Regions from separate parts of the Homo sapiens genome. Here all the other regions are linked to region 1. Evidence: fine-mapped expression QTL. A gene starts in region 1. Each other region holds a variant in brackets. All regions are shown on one strand. Distances are from middle to middle.

Region 1 (5,162 bases):
TATTGCAACTGAATGCCCTAATGTTGATAAAATCTCCCTTATCCAGCTTTATGTTTCTCTCATGATCTAGCACCCTCAGAATCCAATCCCATTGTGTACACTCCAAGCTGTTGTTATTATATATTGGTTAGGTCCAAATTCATTCTGAGTATAGCCCTTTCTCTCCCTTATAAGCTTAGCACATAACCTTAGTTATTGGCCTTATGACCAATAACTAAGAAAGGCAAGTAAGGGAGGGATTCCTGTAAGGAGGGTGTGAAGGGCACAATATTTTCTTTAAGGAAAAAGGCATGACCTCGACAAGGGAGAACATGTAACTTTGTTAGGATTAGAGAGTCCAACGTTTAGAAGCTTCTAGATTTTTAAAATTTTTGAGAAAAAAAATTGTGAAAAGTCACTATACAAATGATGGAAAGTATTTTTAATACATTTATCTAAAAATGGAATTTTTCTATATTATGTTGCAACCCATTTTACTTATTTATATACACATTTTTATGTGTATGTTTCTCTACATATATATTTACATATATATAAAATCTTAAAAATCACCATAAGGAAACAAATAAATCCATAAAAATGGGAAAAATATTTAAATAGGTCATTGAAAAAAGATATATGAGTTACCAATACGCACGTGAGTAAATGCTCAATATAACATCAGAGATGTACAAATTAAAATCACATTTAGATTCTACTACACGCCTACTAGAATGGTTAAATTGAAAAAGATTGGGCATATCTAATATTGCTATTTATGTGGAGCAAATAGAACCATCCAATATTCATGTTGGGAATGGCACAACTTTTTGGAAAAAAATACATTTATAAAATAAAACATACATTTTCTATGTAACCTAGCAGTTTCACATCCAGGTATTTCTTCAAAAGATTAAAAAACGTGTCAATAGAAAAACTTTTGCATAAATGTTTATTTTGACCTTATGATATCCAAGAAGTGGAAAAAGCTCAATGTCATAATGGATACATTTTATTATAAAATAGATAAAAATATTTTATGTCTGTACAATGAAATACTACTCAGTAATAAAAAGAAATTAACTGCTGATCTGTGCAAAAACATGGATAAAACTCAAAAACATTATGCTCAGTGAAAGACATCAGACTTACAAGAATTGCCAACTGTATCATTCTGCTTAACAGGAATTTCTAAAACCAGCAAAGCTCATGTTTATTGACAGTAAGTTGGCTGCTGCCTGGCTTCAGGGGTGAGGATGAACTGCAAAGCAACAGCGGGGAACATTTCCCTGTGTTGAAAATGTTTTATATCTTAACTGTTGTATCTTGACTGTTTTCCTTTTTGGAACAAAACTAAATTTCACTCAACCATACTTGAGTAATCTCTATATTTTTCTATACATGCTTTTCTAATAGTTCTTTGGATACAATCTTTTGTTAACAACAAAGGTAGAATATATTCATTTCCTCATGAATTTTCTGTCTTTTTTTTCTGTCCAAAAATGAAAAGAGCAATTTTGTTATCTGTCCTTTCCTTCTGCCCAGAAATGATTAAACCTGTATTTCTTATTCTCTTCATATTTTCTTTGTTTTAATTCCTTTGTACTACAGTTTCTTCTCTATTCTCATTTGCTTTTCCTCTTCAAGTTTCTCTCTCAGAACAAATGCAGTGTTAATCCCGAAGCCGCTTGCGGGACACTGGCTTCTTCTCCTCAGTTTCCTCCCTAATATATTTGTTGAGGGGTAATACAAAATCACTGGGAAACTGATTAGAGCAGATTTGAAGACAAAATTGTGGCCTGGTAACTTAGCAAAAGCATAATGGTGTCATCTTGTATGCTGATGATAACGTTCTGGGCACTTTGTTACTTTCGTTTTCTTTTTTCCCTCTGTGTGTCTTTGTGTGTGTTTGTGTGTGTGCTCACACCCACACGTGTGACTTTGCACGCATTTGTCTTTGAGAGAGAGATAATAGTTTTTGTTTTTCTTTCAGTAGCCAAAGTTTAAACCATTGCTTTTTCTTTGATTCTATCGCTTTTAAGGTGATCTTTCTTAACACAGGATAAGAAAGCAGTAATGTCCTAAAGAATGCTGTTGAATTAATTAGTATCAGCCTCTCCTACAGTTCTGGAAGGATACGTGGTTAAGTACCACTCCTGGATGAATCAGAAAAACAGCCACTTGAGCAATTTCGTGTTCTGTGGTTCAGATGAGAATCCCAGTTGAGAAAGTAAGAAAATATGTGTTTATTCTTCAGCTTTAAATTGTTATATCACAAACTTCCTTCCTCCTTGGCAAGCTTTCTTTTTTGACGAGAAGAAAATTGTAATAAACAACAGTATGACTAATAGATAGTCACATGGTTACTTCCAGTTTGCAAAATGCTATTTATACTTTGAGTTACTCTTCAAAAGTGGTATACCTCTAGTTTGGAGCTGTGCTGTAAAAACAAGAGTAACATTTTTATATTAAAGTTAAATAAAGTTACAACTTTGAAGAGAGTTTCTGCAAGACATGACACAAAGCTGCTAGCAGAAAATCAAAACGCTGATTAAAAGAAGCACGGTAAGAACATTTTTGTTTGTTTAGAATGACCGTTATTTATTGAAATTGTGATGCAGAATGTTAAAGCCTTCGAGAAAAGAATTAAATTTTGTGGTTTCTTTTGTGAAACTAGAAAATTCCTTCTTATAACAAGATTGAGATTTGCATATGACTGTTTTGTCCTAATAAATTCAGACTTACTTTACATTATTTGAATTACAATGGAGAAGGATTAACCATGACTTAAAACTGCTCAAGATTTAGTTTCATTTTTACTAAGTATTTTATAAAACAAATACTTGAGAAGATGATAGATATGATCCAGATACTCATACAGTTCTCAGAATGCATACATAATATGATAAATTTAGCCAATAGTTCTAATATTTTTAAAGATTGCTTTATTGGATGGTGTAAAGATACTCCGGGCTTTAGGAGTACTTAACGGAAAGAATATATCCCTTTCCTACTCTTACTAAGGAATTGCTAGTACTCCGATATCCATGGAGATGTCTTTACCAACCCTAAGAAGGATAAGGAAAGAAAATGTTCTAAAAAATACACTATGAAACAACCTGGTAACATTGGATTTATTAAATAGCAAGTTCGGAATATATAAGATCCAAGCTACATCTTTGAGATTTCAACAGGGTTTATTTATGTCAAAATATTTGAAAGAGAAAAGGCTGAAACTAAATGCATTCAATACAACGATCTATGATTTAGAGATTTAGGGACTGTGATGAGCTTTAAGCATTTCCCGTTTAACTAAATGTCAACCTACCAGCGTATGCTACGGTCAAAAAAATTATTGCTGTGGTACAATAGAATGCACACTTTATCCTTCCTCCCGTATTTTAACCGGTTTTATAATTCTGCCTAAAGTTAGATAAAACAGGTTTGCGGGGAATGAGATCAATATTTGATGGTAGCATAAAATATCATTTTAATCAAAAGTTTTAAGAAGGCCTTCCAGCCACTAGTAAAACCAGTGTTATTTTCTACTTTCAATCAATTGTATAAATTTATACATTTGTATATAAATACATTATATAATACAATATTATATATCATATTACATATGAATATATTTTAAAAGTTACTGAATAATATATTCAGTATAATATTGTATATATTATAGATACATATATATCTGAAATTATGAACATCGTTTTAATAGCGGTAATTTAGGGCAGTGTGATATAATTCAGTCAGTTTTTATATACATTTTAACAAATATTTTATTTGCTCTGCTTATCAGTATTTTATGATTTTTTTCTATAGCTATTAGCCAAGAAAAATAATATTCTGTTTGATTTTAAATGCATTGGTCACTCTGCATCTTTCTTATCTTTCCTTAGAGAGCAGAATCAAACAGAAAACAGTTGAGTCACTGAAACTTTTCTATGGGGAAAACAATTGCAGTCCTTAACTGTTTAGATTATACATTTAAATATAGAACTATTTTAGTTACACTGTTAATTAAATCCATTGTTCTCGAACTGTCTGGGGAAGTGTCCTTTTAAGCATAGCCTCATCAAACGTTAAGAAGGCTCAACAACTTTGAAATTCATGTTTCGATATCAGCTTCATCGTGGGAGATCACAATTTTTTAATTTGTTTGAAAGGCAGCTATGCTAACCACATTCTACCAATGCCACTAATTTTTCTGATAACTCATGTAAATAATTACAGCCTCCTAAATAAGTATTGAGAATTCAGTAACAATGAAAAGATTCTGGGAAATTAAAAACAACTGAAAACAACTTATGCTGAGTGTAAAAAGCTAGATTTCAGGGTTCACGATATAGATTAAGTAGAGAATGAACACATAATAGGTTTAAATTTGTACCTACATATTCAGACATGCAATAAATGTTGAATTCATTAGTTATTTAAATAAAATTAAATGTTACTTCAAGTCTCCATCCCACTGAATGGACAGGACAGTTTACTTACTTTCTGTCATTTGGTGGTATTGAGAGTGAGAGATTTCTTCCAAGGTTATATGAAGTTTCCCAGGTTGTATAAGACACCAAAGTGTTATAATGGTCTCCATTCATCAGTTTCCACTGATTACACCTGAGAAGACCATGTTCCAATATAAATGACCTCTTCGGGTCTAGCTCTGCTATTTTGTGCTGAACTCATAACAAAAGCCACACTGTTTCTTTGCCACATTTAAAGTACGATCATCTTTTTTGAAGCTGGGGTCATCTGTACGTAAAATCTACCAACTCTGTATACACCACCAAGTCCTTATACTCTAATACCTTGCCAACTTTGCAATGGAAAGGGCTCCTATTTTCCGCTGTATCTGCAAATTGTCATTTCTCATATTGTCAGGATGTGCATTGCCCTTCTCTCTACCTGTTAGCTCGAAGTTATTTCCTCTTTTTAAAATCCCTTCACAATTTTCAGAAACATTACTTCAATAAGCTAGATTTTTTTTTAATTGAAAAGGCCATTGATTTAAGCAGCTTAGGGTTTTCTTTTCAACAGTCATTCTGGAAGAAAGAATATCAAAATGGTCTGACTACCTCCTTCAAATAACAGATATGAAATTGACTCAAAAAATACTTCCACTTGCTGCAAATGTAAATAATCTTTACACTCTTAACACACACAAAATAATTAAA
Region 2 (5,162 bases), 620 kb after region 1:
GTGGCTCACGCCTGTAATCCCAGCACTTTGGGAGGCTGAGGTGGGTGGATCACGAGATCAGGAGATCGAGACCATTCTGGCTAACAAGGTGAAACCCCGTCTCTACTAAAAATATAAAAAAAATTAGCCGGGTGTGGTGGCGGGCGCCTGTAGTCCCAGCTACTCGGGAGGCTGAGGCAGGAGAATGGCGTGAACCCCGGAGGCGGAGCTTGCAGTGAGCCGAGATTGCGCCACTGCTCTCCAGCCTGGGTGACAGAGCGAGACTCTGTCTCAAAGAAAAACAACAAAACAAAACAAAACAAACAAACAAACAAAGAAAACACTTGTTGAATGAATACAGGATTGAATACATAAAATGCAAAACTTCAGTCCTCACAGGGCAGTAAAATTCCAGGAAAATTTGAAGTTGTCTTTCATTAAGAAAAGATTAACAAAACTTGTATTAGAAATGTTAAGATGTCTTAAAAATGTAATTCTTTAGTATTAACTATAACTGAGCAGAATTATCCAGGTCGTGAAATTAAATCTTATCACTATCAAAAAGCACTAAAAACTTTCATCATACCTTCAGGAAAATATGTCGTTCATCTGCTAGAGGTCTACAGCTTAGCTGAAAGCAATTTAAATCTCTCTCTTCTGGACGTTCTGGAATCACAAATCAGATGGTAGAAGGATGAAAAGAATACTTCTTGGTTTATTAACCAGCTGTTTAATCTCTAAATATTTATTTCTGGTTTATTTCTTTCTGTTGCGTACACAACCCTCACTGACAACTGTGTTCAAGAGTCCCACAGTTTCCCAAATACTCTGAGATAAAATAGCAAATAATATTTATCTGTGACTAACATTGAAGAAGGGGGAAGCTGGAAACAGGTGGACTGTAGACAACCGTGGGCATCTGAATGTGGGTTTTAGATGCAGACATTTGAGACGACTAGAAGAAACTGAGAAAAAAGAGGAAAGGACCACAGGAACGAGTTAAGCATAGATATTCAGGAAAAGCCATATCTTCTGGTAAAACATAAACAAAACAGAGTTTACTAAGATTGTAAAGAACAACCTCCGATATGCAAACCTTCAATTTAAAATGACAAGAAACAAGCAAAAAAATGCTCTTTGTAATAAAGCCATAAGGAGAGCTGTTTATATGCATACACAGACATAGATATTTGTTTCATGGGGAAAAAGAAGAGAAGAAAACATCTAAGTCTAAAATATTCAGTTTTATGGATGCAAAAAAGAGTTAAAGAGCATTAGATTATACCAGACAATATTTAGAAATAAGAATCAGAAACGGGTTTGAATTCCCACTCCTATTCACTCAATAGCTTAATGAACTTGACCGTCTATGACTCTGTTTTCATATTTATAAATAGCTCTCCTCATTTTGTGTAATTTTCATGATGAGCGTATGAACTATATGTAACATAATAGTGAAAGTACAATACAAATTCAAGAAACTACTTACAGTCTCAAGATTGGATTGCCGCTATGCTTTAACAATTTTTTTCAGTCCATAGGATTAGATATTTTTACCAACTCAAAAATCCATAAGCCAACTTTGTGTCTACCACGAGGATTGCGTATCAGCATAATAGGAGGTAAAGGTGTGATTTATTTGTCTGACAGAATAGAAGAAAAATGGTGCTTTATTGGGTTGGTTTAAGATGAAAACCTGTTTTTCTAAGTATTGGATCTTGAGACTGCAGCAACTTCTTGGTAAGTTAGCCCCAAATAATACTTTTTCCTCAAATAGAGGATTTTTAAGCAATTATTATTTTCTCTTTGACATCAAAATCAACTAACTTTTTGTTTTTGCTTTTAATAGTCTTGCCATTTTAGATCTTCCTTGTCCATGATGGAGTCAATACCTGAATTAGTCAGAATTAGATTCAATGGCAGTAACAAACAAACTCCCACATCTCAGCGGGTAAGCACCTAACGGTTTGGTTTTTGCTCACACAAAATCTACTTGTGAGTTCAGACACTCTCCAGAACAGCCCCGTGCCAAACAGTGAGTCAGAGAGAACCAGTCTGCTTTCCTCTGGTGACTCTGCCATCGCCAACGTGGCTTTCAAGGTCATACCCATGGGGAAGGAGGTTGCACTTGACTCTTAAAGCCAGGAGTGGGAATGGTATACATCACTTCCGCCCATGTTCCTGCCCTGAATGCAAAGGAGGCTGAGAAATGGGAAGGCTCATGTGGATATTAACTGTCTCTGTCATATCTTCTTATGGAAAGAGAAGGGATTTATGTAATATTGAGCAAAAGAGAGTAATGCAACTTTTGGCAGATACGCTACCTCTGCATAGTCTCTTTGTGTGTTTCAAGTATACCTGGAAATCAGGAAATGTTGCAAAAGGCCTAACTCAAAATTCTTTTCTACTGCCATCAGGCCTAGAGAAATTTTTCTCTGCATGCTTGAATGTCTACCAAATTTACTTTTTAATAAAAAATGAGGATGGCAGTAAAAAGTGTTAAAAAAAAAAAAAGAATAAACACATTTTAATACAGCAGATTCACTGCCTGGGAAGGCAAGGAGTAATGTTCTAATTGAAAACAAAGGAGTCATTAAGGATATTTCCTCACCAGAAAAAAAAAAAAAATCCTGTATAGTGAAAAAAGAACACTGTTTTAAGAACAAAGGGACAATTTTTCATCACACTCCTATCTGCTATGACTATGTGACTTTGGAAATTTGCAGACTCACTTAACCTTTTAGAGGCTCA[G/A]TTTCTTTAAATCTGAAGTCAGAATGACAACACCAAACTCACTGAGGTATTGTGACCATAAAATGAAAAAAAAAAAATCATGATTCCTTTAATGGCATGTTTGTTTAAAAAAAAGAAACTGAAAAGCATGATTAATTGACTTTCATTTCACCAAGTGTGTATTTTCTTTCCAACCTAAGAGAAAACAGATCAATGGAAACAAAGGTATGATTCAGAAAACCTGAAAACTCAGAGTACATCGTTACACTTTGACCCCAAATGTTCTGTAATATTCTATGCAAATTTTTCTTTTGGTATTTGTTGCTTATCCTTTTCTTCCTTCTCATTTTCAGTTACAGCACTTTAATCTGTCTGTCATTATTTCATAACTAGATTACTGAAAAACCATTCTAATTTAACTTCCTTGCCTCCAGCTTTTCTTTACCTCTATCTGTCCTGCATACTCTTAAACACTGCTTTTCTCATGTCACTTGTTTCTCAAACATAGTCAATACTTCCAGAATTCATAAGATTATTGCATTTAAGGTTTTGAAAGAGCACATCTAACTCTATTATCTTATATATATATCATATATGTATTTATAATTACACACGTATATAATTATCTTTAAAAAGTGATGCCCCAGAGATCAGAAGATATATTATAGAATAATATTATAATAAAGATATTTAAGATAATGTTAACAATATGTAAAGATTATATATATCTTATATATATGTATATCTTCTGATTTCTGGAATATCAATTTCTTTTTTATCAAGCTAACTAACTCCCACTTAACAGACCTTATTCATTTGTCCTAGCCTTATGTTTTATTATATATTATACCTTCTGTTTACCTAATTATGGGAAACACACCCTGAAAATAGCCATTCTACTCTAGAGGGTAAATTTTTACTATCCCTGTGAAGCACCCTTCCACCTTTGTATATATATTTGCACAGTCCTTTCCTGGGAATAACTCCCCATTCTCCTCCACCTCCCATCCATGAATGATCATCTTAGGTTCCGCTTTGGTAAAGTCTTTTCCGGCCTAACTAAAGTTGATTGTCTTTTCATTCCTGACTCCCTATTGTCTATACTACATACTTTACTGAATCCTGTTGCTTATTGTTTATGTCTCCATATTAATTCAATGTCGAAACAAACAAACAAACAAAAAATCATTCCCGAAATCATCTTGCTTAGCTAATATCCATTCCTCGTTTGATTCTCACTGCAAACAGAAGACATGTGAACACAATTTCAGTGTAAAAGCAATATTTGGTGTATTAAATTACTCTTTATCCTTCCCTTCACCAGTTGAGTAATCATCTTAGAGAGAGCTACATTTGTTTTTTTTTAATCAACTTTTATTTTAGATTCAGGAGGTACATGTACAGGTCATTTGTTTTTATTTATAAAGAAAAATATATTTAGCTCTAGATTCTATTTGAAGAAAAAATAGGATTAGCCTTTTTATAGGAAAGTGAACAAAATAACAAGCTGGTAGGTTAAATTGTTCCAATAATAAACATTCCCTGAGCGTATGACCTTATTCCATTTGAGAAATAAGGCAGCAATAAGAAATTGATGATAAAAATGAGGTTCACACTGAGGCCTGTGTGTTGTCTTCCAGGACCAGGTCTGCGAGGTGTACCCCCAGGAGCCGTAGAAATAATGTACCCAATGATCGAAGAAGAACCTCAGATATTGCAAGTGAAAGAGATAGTCCGGAAGTACTTCCCTGAGACCTGGATCTGGGATTTGGTGGTAGTTGAGTAAGTTGTGTGTTGCCTGGAATTTAGTTTAGGAGAGGGTTTGAATCCTGCTGTATGACTGATGTTATCCTGGATTCCTGATCCTTTTAGTTCTGCTCTGCTCTTTTCTGGTAAATATTTAGGTTTATAGTTCATTTATCTCATAATTAAACAATGCTAATTTTTTTTCTAATTTAGTCTATTGATAACTAAGATAATAGAAAGTAGGATGCTACCAGCCCTCTTAAATAAAGGAAAGGGAAGGGGAGGGGAGGGAGATTGAAAGAAAGAACAAAAGGAAGGAAAGAATGAAAGAAAAGAGGAAGAAATAAAGGGAGGGAGGGAAGGAGGGAGTAAGGGAGGTAGGGAGAAAAAAAACTTTAAACCTCACCAGGAGCACCAACCCTTAGATCAAGTTTAGCATTTACCACACTAGGTTACTGAGTTATCATGTTCTAGGATCAGCCATGCTTTGTGTTAAAAAAAAAAAAAAAAGATTTGCTTATACTCCTCTTCTCTGCTCCTTCACTAGCTCATTAGGTATAAGTGAGCTGGTGACCAGGTCCCTGAAACCATCACAGAGTGGAAGGCCAGCGCATTCTGCTTGTCTGGAACCACAGGGTTTGGCCTCTCTCCTATCGTGTCTCTTCAAGCCTTCCAGCCTTTCTTCCTAGAACTCACCCTTCCTTATT
Region 3 (5,134 bases), 72 kb before region 1:
GAAGGCACATGACACGCCCCTGGGGGCCATCTGGCCCAAGTCCACCTGCGCGGCTGAGTGGAGGATGCTAGGTTGCTGTGCTGTTTCTCCTACTGTCTTGCTGCCGCACCACCCCTCAGAAAAACCGGGTCGTCAGTTTCCTGCGGTTTGCACTCACCAAATATACTTAGCAATTTGCAATTCACCCGCAGGATTATTCCAGCCTCTGTGATCACACACAGAAGGATGAGCCTTCCTCGTGAGGGTTGGAGATGGAGGGAGAAGGGATGGAGAGTAAGGATGGGACGGAGGTTGTGGAGCAGCAGACCAACACGCCAGGTGGGTGAGGTTGTGTGATTATTCTAGCATCTTTTCTTGATCCTAGCTTGCACCCTTTTAGCATTGGGAGGGAAGGGCAGGGTAGGGGATAGCGACCATAATATAGATCTTAAGTAAAAGCAGTTTTCATTAATAAAACAAAGACTTCAATAATAATGATAATTGGCGATTCCAGCCTCCTCCATCATATTGGAAAAGACAGTATTTCATTAAAAATACTTGGAATTTTCCCTTGGAAAAGGCAGTATTTTATTAAAAGACGCTGCGAGGAAACTGTTGGTTTTCTGTTCTGGAAGCAGGGCAGAAGAATTAGTAACACAGTTCTGCCAAATAGCACAGGAAAGTGGAGCCAAAGCACCTTCGAGGCTCCTGATGTTCAAACGTTAGGTCTTAGTTCCCTTTCTTATTTTTCTAATACATTAATTGCTGAATTGTGAACAGTAGAACACGCGGAAGATAGAGAAAAGAGATAAACATGATGGGTTTTTTGTTGGTTTGCTTGCTTTTTTTCTCTCTGGAACATAAACAATGACATCTGTTTCTCTTTGGTATAATAGAAAGGAAAATAATGATCATCTCAATTTTTATATGTGGAGGCATTGCTTTTCTTCTTTGGGGGATTTTAAGATTTCCCAGAAAATGTAAGTAAACAATTTCTGCTAAAATTATTAAATTAAATTGTTAAAATTATTGTATTATTGATTCAGTTGGATACCAATAACTAGTCTTTCCTTCCTTAATATAGAACAATTTAGAGATAAAAGCATTTTCCAAGACAGTGCATCTAATTGCTCTTCAAACTTAGTCACCTGCTTCACCTTCTAGAATAATCAGTCTTTCAATAAATATGTATCAAGCTTTAGGCACAGTGCTGCCTGCTGATGATATAACAATGAAAAAAAATGGTATTTCTTGCCTGAAAGTAGTTTATCTTTAACTGAATATGGAAGCATGTAAGCAAACAACTGTAACACAAAAGAAATAATTACTAAATAGAACTATGTTGAATTTGAAGCAGGAGAGGAGATTATAAGTTAGCTGCTTGTAGTCAAGGCTTTAATGAAGGGAGAAATATTTGTGCTGAATCTTAAACTCAAGTAGGCGTTTATCAAAGATCATCTTAGAACACACATGTCAGAGAATCACACCAGGTATAATTATGATGGAGTTACAAAGAAGTAGGGTGAGGGACTGGCAATTGTATTATAGTTCCCTAGTGCATTAACTCTTTCACTGCCATTCATTAGCAATTTATACCTTGTCCTTCATCTCCATTCTCCTCATGCTCATTCTCATGTCTATACCCTTGCTTCCAACTTGTTCTAATTTTAACAATTTGTAGGAAACTTCCAAATGCTCCCATCACCACACCAGCTTACTTACTCCATCTCTGCCCCTACACTCTGCCTAGACTCCTGGAACTGTAGATGCAGTATTCATGTTCTACAATAGATCCTATATTCTTTCACTGGATCAGTAATATCACCCTAGTAATTCTCCACTCTCCTACATTATCCTTTTTTCATCCTCAACTGAAACATCTCCATCAGCAAATATGACATACTGGTATCTATATCAACCTTGAAAAAATAAACAACAAAAACAACAGAATTTATTAGACCCCACTTATCTTTTAGCAACCAATTTATTGTTTTTCTCCTTGGTACAGCAACCTCTTTAAAACGGCTTTTCAAAATAATTTTTTATCTTTCCTTTTTCTGTTAAATCCACTTGGATCAAGCTTCCACTCTGCTTTTTCCACCAAACTTGTCTTTCAAGTTCACCAATAACTTCCATATTGCTAAATCGACTGGTCCATTCTCCCTCCTCACCTTATTATATAACCTATTTGCAGCTTTTGGCACTCCCTTTTTCTAAAAAAAAAAAAAAATTTCATTTGACTTACATGACGCCATATTCTTGTGGTTTGCTTTCTACTCATTTTACCAACAACCGTGATTCCCTGATTCTCCTTCACTCTGATCTATTTTACGACAAACTATATAATTTCAGACGCATAAGTCCCATAAGAGTAGGTATTTCTGTATGTTATGTAGGCTATTCATAGAGTTACAAAAATGTCTGGCGTGTAGCAGGTGCTCAATCGGTAGTTGTTGACTG[C/A]GTAAATGAAAGAATGAATTAATTAGTAAATGAATGAGAAAACTGCCTTTCTGGTGACCCAAGTTTTGAATTAAGTATTTGGTTTTTATATTGGTTATTGATTTGAATTTGACATTTTAAAATAATTTTGAACATGACACATTCAAATAACTTTGATAACTTGATTTTTTCACTTCACTCTCAGGTCTCAACTATATAGAACCATATTGCCAGTTGATCCTTCCCATTGAGGATTTTCCCACTCACAGATTTGAAGATGAACCAGTCATTTATTTTAGTTGTGGATAGGAGGTGCTCTCAGAGCTTGTTTCTTTCAGGATTATACCTTAACAAGGAACTTCCTTTATCTAGTGCAGTAACTTAAGGAGTAAAAGTGGAGAGTAAAAAGGGAAATTTTAGCATTCTTTTTTCTGTGTTTCTTGTTTCATAACGGACAAGGAAACAGCGCCACCTTCTAGAGAAATGCTGTCTTTGAAAGACAATATAGTCTCAGTTAAGTTGATGATAGGAACCAGCTCACTGAAGTTATGAATATAGAAAAATTTGTTTATTTACACTGCAACTTGTTCTAGAGAGCATAGTAAATTTTAGGAAAGAAATAGATGAATAAAGAAAATTCATGTAGTCTAAAAATTAGGAGGGAAAATGGCTGGAAGATACTGAATTTCTGGAAGTTTGTTATTGAGTTTTTAAATTTTTCATAGCTCTCATTCTCCAGTGCTTATTCCTTTCATGTTCTCTTCTCGATATTCAATTTTTTTGAATTGATGTTTAAAGTTAAGTCATTCAAATTGAATATGTAAGTAAAACACATTTTATTAGTCTGAGCTATATAATAATATTTTACTCTGAAGCTCACTCTTTCTTTCTTTGATACTTTCTTTATTCTTTTTCTCTATTACCTGTTAATTTCAGTTGGAATTCCAAGGCACCTTAGAAACAAGACATGCCTAGAAAATTTGACTATGTGTCCACAAGGCTGGAACTGAATCAATAATAATTGCTTCTTTCAATCTGAACATGAAACAACGTGGATCAATGGCTGAGAAAACTGCAGAAGTTATGGATCTCTGGCCAGGCTCAACTCTCAGAATGAAATGGTTAGATTTCTTCTTTGCAATATTAAACTCATTTAATAGCTACTAAAAGACAGGCACACTCCTAGGGTGTAATACATTAGCAAACCAAAGAATCAAAGATCTTTGCCCTTGTGGAGTTTACATGCTAGGGGAAGAGATAAGCAATGAAAAATTATCTTATTAAATATGTAATTTATATATTGTGTTAGAAGTTGGAAAGTTTTATGCAAAAAAATGAAAATTAAGGGAGTGGGTTTACTGCAGGTAAGGTTATATCCCAATAAGATGGTGACATTTTAGGAAGGATGTGAAGCAGGTAAGGGACTATCTAGAAGTGAACTTTCCAGGAAAGGAAAATGGCTGGAGCGTGTGTCTTAAGGCCAGTGAATGTCTGGAATATTCAAGGAACAGAAAAGAAGCAGCCAGTCAATCTATCTAAAATGAGGGATTGAGTGAAGAATGCGGATCATTAGGGTCTTGCAGGCTATTGTAAAGAGTTTAGTTTTTGCTCCAAGCAAAATAGGGAGATACTGCCAAATTATGAGGGAAAATGTAATAGGATCTGACTTAAGTTTTAAAAGAATCATAATCTTTGCTGTGATGAGGTTGGCTACTGAGTCTCAAATGTAAACGGAGGGAATCATGTTATACGGCCTTTGCAGTAACTGTGCAAGATAATAATAGACTTAAAGGGCACTGGAGGGAGTGAGAATGAGAAAACTAGAAGAAATCTATGACAGCACTCTGTATTTTGTAAAGGGAATCTTTGATGCATTATCTGGGGCCGTCTTTATATTGGTTTGAACTGAGCAAGCACAATGCAAACAAAACGTGGATGTGGGCAGATGGAGCTACATTCAGCAATTGGTAAGCCTTACTAACATGTATTTACTATTAAATGTGTAAAGCGTGGTAAAGATTCTGAGTCTATAACTGGCTTCCTCCATAGATTCCTCCACATCATCCCCCCAAAAGACCCTCAAAAAATAGATGCCAAAGAGAATATTTAGACAAAGTTACGGTTTTTAGTGAGGGTTTGGCATCACATATCAATATTTATGTATATATATGGAATTGGTATATACCACATGTGAGTCACAAGTGTTCCCTTTATCCTGAACTGGATGCAAGTCTAAGCAGTTTGATCCTTTCCTCTTTGGACCTGGGACCTTGCCTTTTGTTTTTGTTTTTTTTGTTGTTGTTCCTTTGGCCTTTCATTGATGGGAGAGCATTAGAGAGTGTACTGAAGCCTACACTTTCCGCACCCACCAGTGGCCTGACATGCACAAGAGTAAGTTAAGAAGAGAACGTGTTTGCCTCAGTTTACCTTTGTTTAAAATTCAAGAACTTCTTTATATTCCATAGCTTGAAAAAACTCATCATACACTTAGAATCTATTTTGTTCTTAAAACACTTACAAATTTCTCCAACGTCAGGGTGGAGAAGGTCATATAAAGGATATTGAGTTCTCAGTATTCTTTGGTGAACTAAAGGTGACCACTAGCTACCATTTATTGACTGCCCACTTTGTAATAGATACTGGTTCTGTAGCACTCCATGCCAGATATTACATGTTGTATATAATATAATAAAGTTAGTAGCGGAACTTTCTAAAG
Region 4 (5,162 bases), 42 kb before region 1:
TCCAGAGGATTTATTGATATCAAGTGGATTTGCAGCAAACCTAAATATTTTTTATAGAGCAGAAAAAACTTGAAAATGATTATCACACTTCAAGATTGAAAGAAGAGCTAATTATGCAAAAGTGGCTTTCTCACTTATTCTGTTACAGAATACGGAACCTCTGGTGAGGGCCCATTTTCTAGTTTATAGATGGAAACTTCTTGCTGTGCCCTGCCATGGTTAAAGAGACAAGGCCGTTCTCTGGAGCCTTTTATAAGGGCACAATCACATTTACTATGGCTCCATCCTCATGAACTAATCACCTCCTGATGGATGGCTCCATCCCCTAATACCATCACACTGGTGATTAGCTTTCAATTTATGAGTTTTGGGAGGACCCAAATACTCAGAACATAGCATCTACAAATAATAAACACTGATAAATTATGAGTTATACATAAAAATTATAACATACTATATAGACTAGAGTAATAAATATCAAAGTGACCAAATAGTAGGTTCGTGAAAAAAAAAATGCAATCTCCCAAGTAAGAAAAAGGAAAGAAAATTAATTTGGGGCACATATTTGGATGCTTCATAAAATTTAAATTCTATAGGGCATTCAAAGGTTGTATCAAAGCTGCCTTGTTGCATTAGTGCAGTTTTAATTACCTGCCTGGGTAACTGTGATCTTTCAGAACAAGTAGGAATGTGAGTATAAATGGATAGATAGTAAGAAAAACTAGAGAAAAAAAAGTATCTTGATTACAGTGTGAAAATGAGACAGGCAGGTGGGAAGCAGTGCCCGGGAGAAACTCCCACCAGTCTGCCCACTGAGGTGGAGCCTTGGGAAGTTCACAACTTTTGCAGCAAAGAAGAGCGAGCACGGTCCCTCCTCTTCCTGTGTGGAACCTGAGATTAGAATGGTCAGCAGGAAGTGCTCTAGCAGAGCATCCTGTTTTCCTTTTTTTTTTTTTTGCTTTTCACCCAATAAAACCCAGATTTACTCATCCTCTAAAACATCTGTGAGCATAGATTTTTATGGACATGGGCAGGACAAGAACACCATCTTTAGCTGAACTAAGGAAAAGTCCTGCAACAATTTTGGCACATAACATGGGTGCTCGAGAAGAGGCGAATGAAATGAGGACTCGAAACCTCTCACTGTCGCTCCTATTTTCATCCTCCAGCTTCTGAGGGTGGGGGAAACATGCCCCCAAACCCTGTCACTCTAAGGGTCAGGGGAAAGGCCATTTTCTTCCTTTTTCAAGAGGGACAGGCAAGTGGGGTCTCCTCACTCTGCCTCCCCTCCATGCAGGGGTTGGGACTCACGGCCTAAGGGTCCTGCAGAGCCAGCTGGCTGGCTCCCAGCCATAAGCCACCACAGCCTTCCCCTTCCCCACCCAAGGGCTTCAGCTTTATTGGATGAAAATTAAGCTTTTCCCCTGGTGGAGCATCCACTTTCATAAGAATAAGAGGTTCTTCCCCAGGCATTTTAAACTGATTTTTTTATCCCCTTCTTCTACCCCATCAGCAGTTAACCTTTACATTTTTTTTTCCTTTTAGAGGACATTTTTACAAGGCCAGGCCCCCCAACTATCACTGTTTGTACTCTCTAAAGTTTTTGTTGTGAAAAAGGATTTGTGGGGCTAGTCTTGGGCTATAGCCAATCTGGTGTGCTTTGCATGTCTGTATGGTTTGTGTTGCAGGCCTCCATCTTGCTTTACATCCTGGGGGCATGGCCAGTAACTGCATGACAAGGCTTTGTTTAGCAGCCCTGCCTTAGGTGATGAGATATCTAACCCTATCAGGTTAGATATCTACATGTTCTCCTAGCCCTGTCTCTTAAAAAAAATGGGCCCAGGGACTGGGTTTTCTTCTGCCTGTCTGTGTGTATACTGTGTGTGATGTTTACAAAAAGAGCTCTAATTAATTTGTCCTAAAGAAAAGTGCTTGGATCAAGTATTTTTTTAAGGGGAAGATAAAAGCTGTGGTACTTTCAGTTCACATGACTTTAATCTTTGAGAAATAAAAACAGCCTTAAAAATTATTGGTAAAATGCAGGTGTCACTAAAATGTAAATAGGTGAGCTAAATTATGCAGGTTGGAGTCAAGGTTTGCTAAATGTTTTAAGGTTATAAACTACTTTTGGGGTTTTGAGAATTCTTGGACTTGCTGGCTTCACAACTGGTAAGGTCTGGCAACATATGGAACTAATCACACCA[T/C]TAATTCATGCCAGAGAGGATAAATTCCTCTTCAAAGGGCTTAATTGTGCAATGTCCTTGTTCTTTGCTCAGAGGCTCAACCTTCTTGTACTCTCTTCTTTCTAGCCTGCAAACAGCCCTCCTGCTCTTGCTGTGCCCTGACATGCCTAGACATGTCAGCCTCACTCTACATTCCTTTCCTTATTTGGAAAAAGTTTAGCCTTATTCTCCACAGGTGGCCCTCTTCTCTTCCCTCCTTCTCCCCCATCACTCATCTACCTTACATAGAAGGTTTAAGTGTTTAGCCAATCAGGACTAGTTTAGGTTGTGTGGTCTTGACTCCAGCCAATGGGGAACTACACAGAAGCAGGGACCGTGTTAGGAATAAAAACTCTTACCCTCCTTTGTTCAGTGTGCTGCATGGCTGATGCAGGCAGCACCCTTCTGCAGAAGTAAATTGCCTTGCTGAGAAATCCTTTGTCTCAGTGCTGGTTCTTCTTTGCAGCACAGAGCACTTGTTTCTAACAATCATAGGGGCTCATCAGGGATACCCTTTCTCCTCTGGGGAAGGGTCCCAGATCATCTCCCATGAGGAGATGCGTCACACTCTCTCGTTGCGTTGGCCTCAGAGGGAAAGGGATCAGGACCTCCCCCAGCATGACGAATAAACCCACACTCTCAGCAACGTGGGTGGAAAGGATTCTTACCTACCTACCACGGCAACCAGGTAACTCTATGCACAGGACAAGGTAAGAAATGTTGCAGGGGCAATAAAGTATTTCCTTGGAGGTCGGGATATCTTGGAGGTTGAAAGTGTGTGAATGGTAACGAGCACTACTACTGTGCTGAGTGAGTACAAAACAAAAGGAGAAGATTGCAAGAAACATCCAGTAAAAGGGGAGCTAAGCTTCTAGGAGAAGAAAGGCAAGAAATCTCTAGTAGGAGAGATTGAGACTCACACACAGCTTCTAGAAGAAGGGAGGGCAAGAAATCTCTAGTAGGAGAGGTTGAGCCCCCACACACCCAGAAGCATTAGAAACCTCCAATAGAGGGGAGGTTGAAAACTCCAGGGAAAAAGCCTGCTCCAGTTAGACACCATACCAAACCTCCAAGATGGGAAATGTTTCAAATAAGACAGGGAAAATAAAGAGCCAGGCAGATGATGAAATTCCTCCTGATAGTTGCCTAGGGATTATGCTAAAATATTGGTAAGATAATAAAAGAACCAAACATAAAAGAAAGCAGCAAATGATAAAGTATTTTTGCTTCATTTGGGCTCGAGAGCCAATCCTCAAACCCTCAATTTTCTGGCCAAAATTTGGGTCCAGTGAAGAATGGATTTGTTAACTTTTAATGGAACATATTAATGACAAAAGCCCTGTGTCTCTGGAGGATATAGAGTATGCTCTTTGTTGGAGGCAAGGACCTGTCCTCCTTTACCCTCTAAAAATCAGAGGGAGCAAGCTAGAATCTTACTGCTCTGAAAGAGAAAAGGTCCCTATTCCTAGACAGCCCATCAACACATGGGATCCCCTAGACCATCTTCCTCCACTCAATACCCCCAATTCTCCCCCTCAAGCAGCTGTTGCCACCTCAGACCCCACTCCAGATCCCTCCCCTGCTCACATTGTTCCCCACCCCTTACAACCCCAATTCTTGGGAATTATCATCCCATGAGCCAGCTCCTTACCAGCCTAAATACTCTTCTCTAAAAGGACTCCAACGTGAGGTAGAGCAATGTAAAAAGGATATTCAAAACTTCCCTTTATCCCCTATCCCTGGGGAATCAGCTCTGACTCTCTGCCCCTTAAAAGAGGTGCTGCAGGGAGGGGGTGCCATCAGCTTCATAAATGCTCCTCTAACCAGTTCAGAAGTTCCAGGCTTTAAAAAAGAACTCAAGCCGCTGTGAGATGACCCTCATCGAGTGGCAGATCAGGTCGGTGATCAATTTCTAGGACCCCAGTTATATACTTGGGCTGAGTTAATGCCCATCCTGGGCATCCTGTTTTCAGGGAGAGAAAGGGGCATGATCCTTAGGGCCACTATGGTAGTTTGAGAACATGAACACCCCCCAGTTAAAACGTTTCTACAGCAGACGAGGAATTCCGTGCCCAAGATCCCTGGTGGGACAATAACAACATAGCTCACTGGAAAAACCTGCAAGACCTGAGGGAGATGATGATAAAAAGAACTCAAGAATAAGTACCCTGGACTCAGACTCTGTCTCAGACACTCAGCACACAACAGGGGAAGGATGAAGAGCCTATAGAATTCTTAAACAGATTAAAGGAGCAAATGAAAAAATAAGCAGGCCTAGATTTATAAGATCCCCTAGGACAAGGAATGTTAAAGCTTCATTTTTTTACTAATAGTTGGGCAGACATTTCCAAGAAATTACAAAAGATAGAGGATTGGAAAGATCATCCTCTAAGTGAATTTCTCAGAGAAACTCAAAAGGTATATGTGAGAAGATACGAAGAAAAGCAAAAAGTGAAAGCAAAATTCATGCTATCCACCTATCAACAGGGGGCTCCAAATCAATACATTTCTAAACAAAGCCCCCAGGGGGCCAAAATCTATAAATGACCCAAACCTCCATTTAGAGGCTTCAAGCCCCCTATTAAAGGATCCGGGACCTCATTTGCCAGACCCTATAAAGAACACAGGGGGGCCAAGCCAAAGAATCCCAAAACAGAGAAAAGACAGAATAGATGTTTTAAATGTGGAAGAACAGGTCTCTTTAAGAGGGAATGTCCCGCATGGGAAAAATAAAAAGAAGTCCTTCCACTCATGACTTTTGAGGAAGAATAGGGGGGGCCAGGGGCTCTGTCTCTTTTATCTCAAGTCCCACCAAGAGCCCTTGATAAACTTAGAGGTGGGACCCAAATATGAACTCATAACGTTTTTAGTAGATTCAGGAGCAGCCCGCTCCTCTGTTTCCCTCCATCTGATATCACCTGCTCCTCAGAACTTTCTGTC

The links. PIP is the estimated chance that this variant, and not a neighbour inherited with it, causes the effect. A credible set is the group of variants that fine-mapping cannot tell apart.
Region 2: its variant is the best candidate, but not a certain one, in a credible set for the expression of CLEC2B in subcutaneous fat (GTEx, PIP 0.77).
Region 3: its variant is the best candidate, but not a certain one, in a credible set for the expression of CLEC2B in whole blood (TOPMed, PIP 0.86).
Region 4: its variant is the best candidate, but not a certain one, in a credible set for the expression of CLEC2B in fibroblasts (GTEx, PIP 0.76).

What each region holds. Positions count from the first base shown.
Region 1 is chr12:9,866,587-9,871,748 of GRCh38, reverse strand. CLEC2B (C-type lectin domain family 2 member B) reads left to right here and starts at 2,395. Exons shown (of 5, transcript NM_005127.3): 1 at 2,395-2,544.
Region 2 is chr12:9,241,952-9,247,113 of GRCh38, reverse strand. It overlaps LINC00987 (long intergenic non-protein coding RNA 987), which reads right to left. Exons shown (of 7, transcript NR_137434.2): 3 at 566-645. It also overlaps the pseudogene A2MP1. Among named protein-coding and RNA genes, the nearest start is that of LINC00987, 4.5 kb to the right of the region's middle. RefSeq lists silencers at 1,980-2,029, 2,040-2,089. The variant G/A (reference allele first, on the strand shown) is at 2,731.
Region 3 is chr12:9,938,314-9,943,447 of GRCh38, reverse strand. LINC02470 (long intergenic non-protein coding RNA 2470) reads left to right here. Exons shown (of 5, transcript NR_104634.2): 1 at 1-318; 2 at 876-959; 3 at 3,355-3,539; 4 at 4,278-4,385. Among named protein-coding and RNA genes, the nearest start is that of LINC02470, 2.6 kb to the left of the region's middle. The variant C/A (reference allele first, on the strand shown) is at 2,440.
Region 4 is chr12:9,908,461-9,913,622 of GRCh38, reverse strand. CLEC2A (C-type lectin domain family 2 member A) reads left to right here. Exons shown (of 5, transcript NM_001130711.2): 5 at 1-396. The coding sequence ends at 57. Among named protein-coding and RNA genes, the nearest start is that of CLEC2A, 21 kb to the left of the region's middle. RefSeq lists an enhancer at 2,254-3,453. The variant T/C (reference allele first, on the strand shown) is at 2,205.